Linked DNA regions of Homo sapiens: region 2 is linked to region 1. The links come from fine-mapping of genetic effects on gene expression. A gene starts in region 1. The other region holds a variant in brackets. All regions are shown on one strand. Distances are from middle to middle.

Evidence for each region. PIP is the estimated chance that this variant, and not a neighbour inherited with it, causes the effect. A credible set is the group of variants that fine-mapping cannot tell apart.
Region 2: its variant is the best candidate, but not a certain one, in a credible set for the expression of TNNI1 in lymphoblastoid cells (GEUVADIS, PIP 0.83).

Annotation. Positions count from the first base shown.
Region 1 is chr1:201,419,820-201,424,198 of GRCh38, forward strand. It overlaps TNNI1 (troponin I1, slow skeletal type), which reads right to left and starts at 1,911. Exons shown (of 9, transcript NM_003281.4): 1 at 1,854-1,911.
Region 2 is chr1:201,398,093-201,402,471 of GRCh38, forward strand. LAD1 (ladinin 1) reads right to left here and starts at 1,232. Exons shown (of 10, transcript NM_005558.4): 1 at 1,177-1,232. The coding sequence starts at 1,214. It overlaps LOC101929343 (a long non-coding RNA gene), which reads left to right and starts at 1,399. Exons shown (of 2, transcript XR_241172.3): 1 at 1,399-1,698; 2 at 2,701-4,379. RefSeq lists an enhancer at 928-1,590. The variant A/G (reference allele first, on the strand shown) is at 2,028.

The sequences.
Region 1 (4,379 bases):
AGAGTCTCAGCTGTCATGCTGGGGCACAGAGGGAGGGGTATGGAGACAATCCATGAATTCCTGAGATGCTTGGCTGGTATTAGATTTTATGGGCAGCTGCTTATTCTTAGGGCTCTGCTTCTCCAAAGACACTGAGGAAGTCCAAAGGAAACACCAGCTGGCGAAGAGCCACCTCCAGGCCCATCTGTCCATCATCAGCCTCCAGGAATGCCAGTGTCCAGAGGGCACCAGGTCTGCGTCTGTCTCCCTGGGATGTGCCTTGTCCTTGGTGGGCATTTGGCAGTGATCATGCCTCCCTGTCTCCCTCAGAGATCCAACTGTCCCCATTGTGGGGCCCTACCTTCCAAGGCCGGTTTACACCTCCTGCCAAGCTCCGGGGCCTGCCCCCAGCCTGCCTCACTGACAAATGCCAGACCAAGGGGTCCCACGTCAGGCAAGAGGCCTCAGCCTGTGCTCTGACACCCCTCAGACGGGGGCCCTTGCCAGGCTCTGTGGAAGACAAGCGAGGACTGATAAGTCAGGATGAAGATAGCAGCCACTGGAAGGCTTGGAGAGCCAGGATTCCATCTCCTCTACAAGTAGCAAGCAAGGAGATAATGAGAAAATCCTCCCCCCGAGGGGGGGAGCAAAGAGTCTCTGGTGGTTGCCTCAGAGCTGGGCTTTCCCTTCCTTGAGGCTTTGCAGCGTGGAAGGGACTATCCGCTAGACTATGAGATTGAGTCTGTGTGTGTAAGTGTGTGTAAGTGACTGTGTGTGAGAGTGTGAGTGTGAGAGAGAGAGCGTGTATATGTAGGGGAAAGAACTGATCTCTTTGCACACCCAATGATCACGTCCACAAGTATCTAGTTAGGCTCATGTGCTTCCCCCTGCTCCCCGCCCCCTGACCTTGGACCCCCATTCAAGGGCATCCCTGTCTTCCTTGACTGACGGTTAACACTCCCAAGTGCATGGCGCTGGGCTGCCCCCATCTTGAGTTCTGAACAGCAAAGCCTAATCTCAGAGCTGCTGTGGGACTGTGACTCCCAAACCTGGTGGCAGGTGCTGCCTTCAGCCCCCACCTGAGTCAGGGACCGCCACACGGCCCCCTGCCCCAAGCCTTGGGTTACCCTGTAGATACTGCCCTGGCTTATGTGTTCACTGGCTCCTGTGCCCCAACCCAAAATGCCGCCACCATTGCCTTCCTCCAAGAGGACCCCCAGTATCTACTGCTGCTTCTCAGAGCCAGGAGCTCTGAGCAGGAGCAGTCAAGAGGGGTTGCCGGTCTGCCCTCCTCTGCTCTTGTGCTACACTACAGAGGGATAGGCAAAGGGAGCTAACAGCGTCGCTCAGAGACAAAGAACACAGAAGCAAGATGGTTTCCTTGGCCAGCAGGGAGCTCTGGCCCTGCCTTCTAGGCTCCCTGGGAGTCCTGCGCGTCAGGCACCCTCCTTCTCTTCCGCTGCAGGCATTGCTGACTTTGAGCACTCACCCTGGCTCTCTGATCCCAGGGCCACCCCTTCCCCTGGGTGCGCTCTCCCTCCCACACTCTGCTGGGCATCCTGTGTGAAAACATCATCCCTTAGGCTCTGCCCTGGGGCTCCTAAGGAACCTCACGGAAGATTCTGCTCCTTGCTCACAGCCTCCAAATGGCCAGGAAAAAGTTTCACCTCTCACAACAGTTTTGCAGGAGAGATGCCATTCTGTGGGACAAAATGCTGTGGGAGTATTTTAGGAATGTTCTACCAACAAACCAACTGCACAGGCAAGAAATGGTTTTCTCCAGCTCCAAGACCTCGCTTTCTCCTTAAACAAAAGCCCCAGGTTCTCTGCCTGGGATCAACCTACATCTGAAGTTCTGGGCTGCAGACGCTTACCTTGTTCAGTCCTCGTGGAGCTGGGCTGGCCTGTGCCTCGCCGTAGACTGCAGACTGTGAGGGGCAGAGCCGAGGGGAGGCTATGAAAACTGTGTCCAGCAGCAACTGGCTGGTAAAAATAGAACAGACCCACTGCCCCCTCCTGCTGCCCCTCCTCCCTCCCACCCTTCACACACACACACACACACACACACACACACACACACACACACACCTCACAGGGCAGATGCGTGCTGCAATGCACACAACAGGCACATAGGCGGAAAGCCATGTGAATTTGTGGCTCAGGAGCAGAGGCAAATTCTGTGCACATAGGTGCCACCAACTGAGTGAAACCAGCACCCACCTGGGGAGACTCGAGCTGCAGAAAGGGAAAGAATGAGCAGCCAGACCAGGTGTGGGGACTGAGCAGAGATGGGACTGGGAGGGGGAATGAGGGAGAGCAAAGGGCCACAGTGAAGGCCCAGAGGGGCAAGTAGCAGCTGGGGGAAGAGGACCATTGGGCTAACCCTGCATCTCTTATAAGGCAATATGGAAATGAGGCCCCTGAACCCATGCCCCAAAAGCCCAAGAGGGCTAAAGACTCAGCTTTCAGGGATTTTTCAGTGGCTCTGGTGCACGTGGGATACGAGGGTGCCTGGCTGTGGGGAGTGATGTGAGCAGTGTTGCAGGCTGACCCCAGTGAGTGTTTCCAGGGCTGAGCAGAATGGCAGTGGCAGCAGGGCACACCTTTATGCTCAGGGAGGTCTGAGGGTCTGCAGACACTCTGCATCCCCCTCCAGATGGGTTTCCTGGAATCTAGATTTCCCAGGTTCCAAAGGACACCCGAGTCTCATGCCTGGAACTCAGTGAGACTAATTCACCTCTCCTCTGCCCTAATCTTCATCTCCAGCCAGAAGCCAACAGATCCCAGGGGACTGGAGCCACAGGGGCTGCACCTGTTTACCGGGTATTTTTAGGATGGTTGATGAACACATAATACCCACCCTATAGTCAGAGAAAGACAATGCCTGCTATGTTAATCCTGTGGCTATTATAGTCTGTCATCTCATGGGTTGGGGCAGGACACTGACCCTCTCAGAGGCCAGAGAGAGGCCTCGCAAGCAGGAGGTTAGGGAGCCCCAGCCATGCTCCCCATTTGGAGAAGGAGAGAGTAATGGGCAGGGGTGTCCTAAGGAGACACACCCCAGTGCCCACAGAGGTAAAGGCCCTGCCCTCTCTACAACGACATTCTGCTGCCTAATAGAGGTTGCTCTAATTCTGTTCTGGTCGGGTCAACTTTGAGAAGCCTCTATGTGAGACGGCTGCCAGGGAGAAATGACAGGGTCTGGGGAGGCATAGGGGTTGGGGACATAGGATTCCAAGTGGAGAGGCTGTGATGGATAATGAAGGCAGGCTCCAGCCAAAAGGAGCAGCTAGAGGGGAGAAGGAATTTAGGGGCTTTGCAGATGAGCCTACTGGAGTTTATTGCCTTGGCTTATTATAATTTATACAATAACTTTCCATTTATTTATTTATTTATTTATATACTTTTGGAGACAGAGTCTCACTCTGTCACCCAGGCTGGAGTACAGGGGCTCTGTCACCCAGGCTGGAGTACAGTGGCTCACTGCAACCTCCACCTCCCGGGTTCAAGTGATTCTCCTGCCTCAGCCTCCTGAGTAGCTGGGACTACAGGCACGCCACCATGCCTGGCTATTTTTTATATTTTTAGTAGAGATGGGGTTTTACCATGTTGGTCAGGCTAGTCTCAAACTCTTGGCCTTGAGCAACGCACCTGCCTCGGCCTCCCAAAGTGCTGGGATTACAGACATGAGCTACCATGACCAGCCTATACAATAACTTTCTTAAAAGGCCTTGATATTCTCAAAAAATGAATTCTCTGCATGAATTATCCTGCTTTTTGAAAAGGAAAAACAAAAGAAGACAGTTCGACAAATAGAAGAACAAAGCAGGGTGAACAAAAGCCAAGAAAGTAGGTGGCCGGATGTCCGCAGCAAGACGTGGAGAACATAGTGCAGCCAGGGGCCCTCCCTGGGCAGGAGCCATGGAGAATCTCAGACTCGGAGTGATTCATCTTCACACTCTGTTGGACAGCATGGGACCAGGACCCCTCACCCCAGTGTCCCAATTCCATCCCCACCATCCCTGCACACCATGTGGAATCCAGCCTCCAGCTCACCCTCTCAGATCCACCCTGACCTTTGACCCCAGTTCACACACTGACTTCTTTAGCGTCTCTCTCCTGCAGTCTCTCAAAGGTGGCCTTCAAAAGCAAGAATGCAGTGCCCTGTTGTCCTTGCCCCTGACCCCCATCTTCCTTCATGTATGGAGTGGGTGCAGAGCAGGCCTCAATGATTCAGGCCGCCCACACCCAGCTGAGGGGCCGCCACTGGAGGTCTTAGCCCTGTGGCCCACTCACTGCCCCAGCCAAGTGCGCCTCTGCAGCCTTTCTCCTCCCCTCCTTGCCTACAGAAAAGGTCACCCCTTCTCAGTGCACATCTGCCCTGGGGCCAGGCTTCCTAT
Region 2 (4,379 bases), 22 kb before region 1:
GGGGAGGTGGCCCCCCAGTCCCAGGCGATGAGCTGCTATGGAGAGGCTAAGCCTGAGACAATGAGGTAGTTCTGGAGCCCTTATTAAGGGAGGGCAGGAGCGGGGTAGAGGACATACTAGAGCACTGGAAAAACCTGTGAAAGATGCCTTGCTGGGGAAAGCCTACAGGACCCAAATGGCTGGAGGGTCTGCACCTGGCAGAGATAGCCCTGGCTCAGGAAAGGCCAAGACCCAAATGCCCACCTGGGAGGAGCTAAGAGGCTAATATCTACCTGGCTAGAAAGGGATCAAAAGAGCAGGCTCCAGCTCTGGGCTACCGCAGGAGCCTCAGTTTCCTTAGGGACAAGATGGGGGACGGGGGCGCCCAGTGGAGGAATGAGGTGAAAATGCTCACAGGGGGCCTTCTTGGCAGAGGTGCAGGGTCGCTCCAAGAGAAGTCGCTAGAGGTCACCAATCTCCATGAGGGGTGCTGCCTTCTGAACACCCGCCTTCCCCAGGCCTCTCGGACCCTGATGGGATGTCCAGCAGGCAGGGGTAGGATGCCTCATCCCCGACCCTTTAGGAGACCAGTGTACAAGTAAAGATTGCAGCAGCACAGATGGGGATGGCAACTATCTTAAGGTTCCCAGCCCAGATGCCACCCCAAAATGCCATGCTGAGATTCTGAGCGTCCTTAGTGGGAGACGGGTCTGCTTCCCTCCAGTCCTCTTCACTGACCCCTCCAAGACGGCTCTCCCTGCTCCCCCTCCCAAGAGGGGCTGTGGGACACCTCCCAGGGGTCCTCTCCGCCAGAGACACACGGGGGCAGTGAGAGAGGCTTCTCTCAGGAATGAGGCTTGGAGGTTACTCCTGAACACCTCCACAATCCCCCAAAACGTTCCTTCCTGCTTCCACCTTCCACAGGGGGGGCCATATCCCAGCGGGCGTCCAGACTGAGGACCAGCCTTCCCCTAAGCACCCTGTGTGGGGCCTCAGGCCCCGAGGGGAGAAGACCCACCCTGTAACCTCAGGGGTCCCGAGTTTGGCCCCAATCCTGTCTCCCGCGAGTCGCAGCAAGACCAGGATCCAGCCTCAGTGTCAGGGTCCCAGGCGGGGAGGAGGCCGGTGCCCCGAGGAGAGGAGACCCAAAGGCTCCCCGCCGACCCCCCGCCCCTCCCGGCTCCCTCCGGCGCTCACCTGGACAGCGCGGACCAGTCCTTCCTGCTGACAGCCATGCTGCAGGAGCCCCGCGTGGCCGCCCGCGCCCCGCCGGCCGCCGCCTCACCTGGCGCCCCTCCCCTTCCAGCCCAGGTGGGATCACATGGCCGCTTATCTCACCCCCGCGCGCCCCGGCCGCGCTCCGATTTGCCGACCCGGGAATGGCCTCTGGGATGTGGGCGTCCCAGACAAAGCCGCATTGATTGCAGCCCAGGCCGGCCCGGCCGCGAGGCCGCAAGCACTGGGTGGACCGTCGGACGGATCGCGGGACCGAACGACGGACGCCCGGGGCCGGCGTGGGGCTGGTCGGCTGCCCGGGGCGAGGGCGGGAGACTTCCTGCTCAGAACCAGTCCGACCAGCTTGGCGCTGGGACGCCTCCCCGCGCTGTGCCGCGGCCCGGGGTGCCGAGGAGCTGGGCTGGGGGCGGGGACCCCTGCCGGGAACCCGACTTAGCCCGGAGACGCTCAAGAGCAAGAAGCCGAGCGGAAAAGTTAGCGCAGGTACTGTGATCTCGGGTCTAGAGCGCCCGCGCCTTCGGGGCCCCTTCGCAGGGAGCGCCCTCCCCACTCCCTGGCTTCGGAACCCACCCGGGCCCACCGTCCCAGTAGGCCTCGCTGAGATGAATGAGGCATTGCTTTCTGAGCTGCACACAAAACATGCCCCTGGTAGACCCAGCCCCACCCAAAGGGAGAATCTTAGACTCAATTCAGCAAACATTTGTGAAAGCACAAATATGTCAAAGGCACTGTCCTTGCTCCCTGATACTGGACTTTGGGCTAGAGTGGCAGGGTGTATAATAAGGGCAGAGGAAGCTCAGTTTTTCTTCCCC[A/G]AGGAAAGATTAAACACAGATATCTAGGACTCGAATTTTGGAGCACCGTGAGACAGCTCAGGCACCCCTGACACCACCTGGCTCCCTTTAGGTGCCCATCTGGGCTGGTGCGGGGCCAGGTGCTTTCTATCCAGGAACCAGCCTCAGGTGGGCTTGGGCTAAGAGAGGGTCAGGCGTTGAGCATGGGGAATCTTATCTTCCCTGATGGATCTGAACTGCAGGGTCAGCGCACAGTTGCTGTTCCTGCCCTGAGAGGAAGGAGGCACAGCCCCAGCGCCAGGATGAGAATATCAAAAGGGAGCCTGAGCCAGAGCCAGAACTGCCCTCATGCTCCTGGGCCTCGCTGCCCAGCCTCAGCCTCTCTTTGGTGCTCATGTCAGGCCTTCCAGCTCTGAGATCTCACGGCAAAGGGCAAGCTAGCTGCCGGGCAGAAGCCTGGAAACACAGACACAGCCAGCCTGTTGAGATTCCCCCTCCCGAAGTACCCCCTCCTCCAGGGAGCCTTCCTTCTTGGCAAGGGTGGGACGAGGTCCAGGACATGAGAACTGGACTGGTAACTTGCACACTTGAGCTCTGATTCTGACATTTGTGAACTGTGTGACTTGGGACAAACTCCTTCAGTTTCCTTATCTGTGGAGTGGATGTTACGATACCTTGCTCTGCTTCCTTCCAGGTTGTGGAAATCATATGAGTTCCCTGCTAGTGACATTGGAGTGCACAGATGAATATCGACAAGGCTCCAGGGAGTTCTGAACAGAGGCCAAGGCAGGCCCTGGAGCTGTATGCTGCTTACAGGAAAAGAGAAAGAGGGGACCCCAATAGTCTAGGTCCCTGGATCCTCTGACCCGGGGCCTGACACTGTCAGGGAAGCTGCTGTCTCCCTAGGGACCTACTGAATGTTCTTCCCATGGCTGGTCAGTGCTGACACCTCAACACAGGAAGAGAAATACTCCTATGAAGTCATCTGAAGCCTGGTCATGCCAGGGACACTTCACGAAGGCAGGAACAGTCCTGTTTCTAAAAGCCCAAAATCTAACAGCCTCTCTACAGATATAAAAGCCCAAAGACATGGAAAGTTTGTATGCAGACAACCCTAGAAGTAAGGAAAAGTGAATGACATATATGTCAATGCCCAGAAAGTTCCTTGAGATCAGACACTGTACATTTATGGGATACTTTCTAAGTGCCAGCTACTGTACTTGGTGCTGGATCAGTGCATCCATTTCCCGGGGCTCCCGTGATGAAGTGCCACAAACTGGATGGCTTTAAACAACAGAAGTTTACTCTCTCACAGTTCTGAAGGTTAGAAGTCTGCCATGAAGATGTGAGCACAGCCAGCCTCTCTCCAAAGGCTCCAGAGGAGAATCCTTCCTTGCTTCTTCCCAGAGCTCCTTGGCATACAGCTGCATTACTCCAAGATTTGCCTCTCTTGTCACACAGCATTCTGCCTGTGTCTCTTGTTTGTGTTCAAGTATCCCTCCACCCTAATTTAGTATGACCTCATTTTAGCTTGATTATGCCTGCAAATACCCTATTTCCAAATGAGGTCACATTCACAGGTACCAGAAGTTATGAATTGAACACATCTTTTTTGGGATGTGTTCTACCCATTATAATTCATTCTACCCACTATAATCACAAGTGGCTTTGACATTCAGTGACACAAAGATGATAAGGACTCGGTTCCTGACCTCAGGACATTCTCAGTCTATCAGTGAAGACAAACACATGCTGGTGAACACACACACATACACAAGCACACATATACCCCGAGCCTCATTCAAGTCAGACTGTGATTAAAAATGGAAATTGTGTCATCAGGAGGGATTGGGGAAGTCTTCACACAAGAAAGAACATCTAAGTTGGGCCTTGAAGGGTAAGTGGAATTCAACTGTCAGAAAGGGTGTAAGGGCATCCAGCTATAGGACACAGCATAAACAAAGACATTGGGACATAAACATGAAAGGTGTGTGTGGAACAGAGAGAAGACTAGTCTGCGTGAAGCATTGAGCCCCTTCCAAGGCTGAAAAGAAAGGTTGGAGACAGGTAGTAAGGACTTTGTGTGTTGTGCTAAAGAGTCAGTCAGCCTTGGCCGGTTATGGAGACTCACACGTGTAATCCCAGCATTTTAGGAGGCTGAGGCGGGCAGATCACTTGAGGTCAGGAGTTCAAGACCAGCCTGGGCAACATGGCAAAACCCCATCTCTACTAAAAATACAAAAAATGAGCTGGGCGTGGTGGCACACATCTGTAATCCCAGCTATTTGGGAGGCTGAGGCAAAAGAATCACTTGAACCTAGGAGGCAGAGATTGCAGTGTGCCAAGATCACACCACTGAACTGCACTGCACTC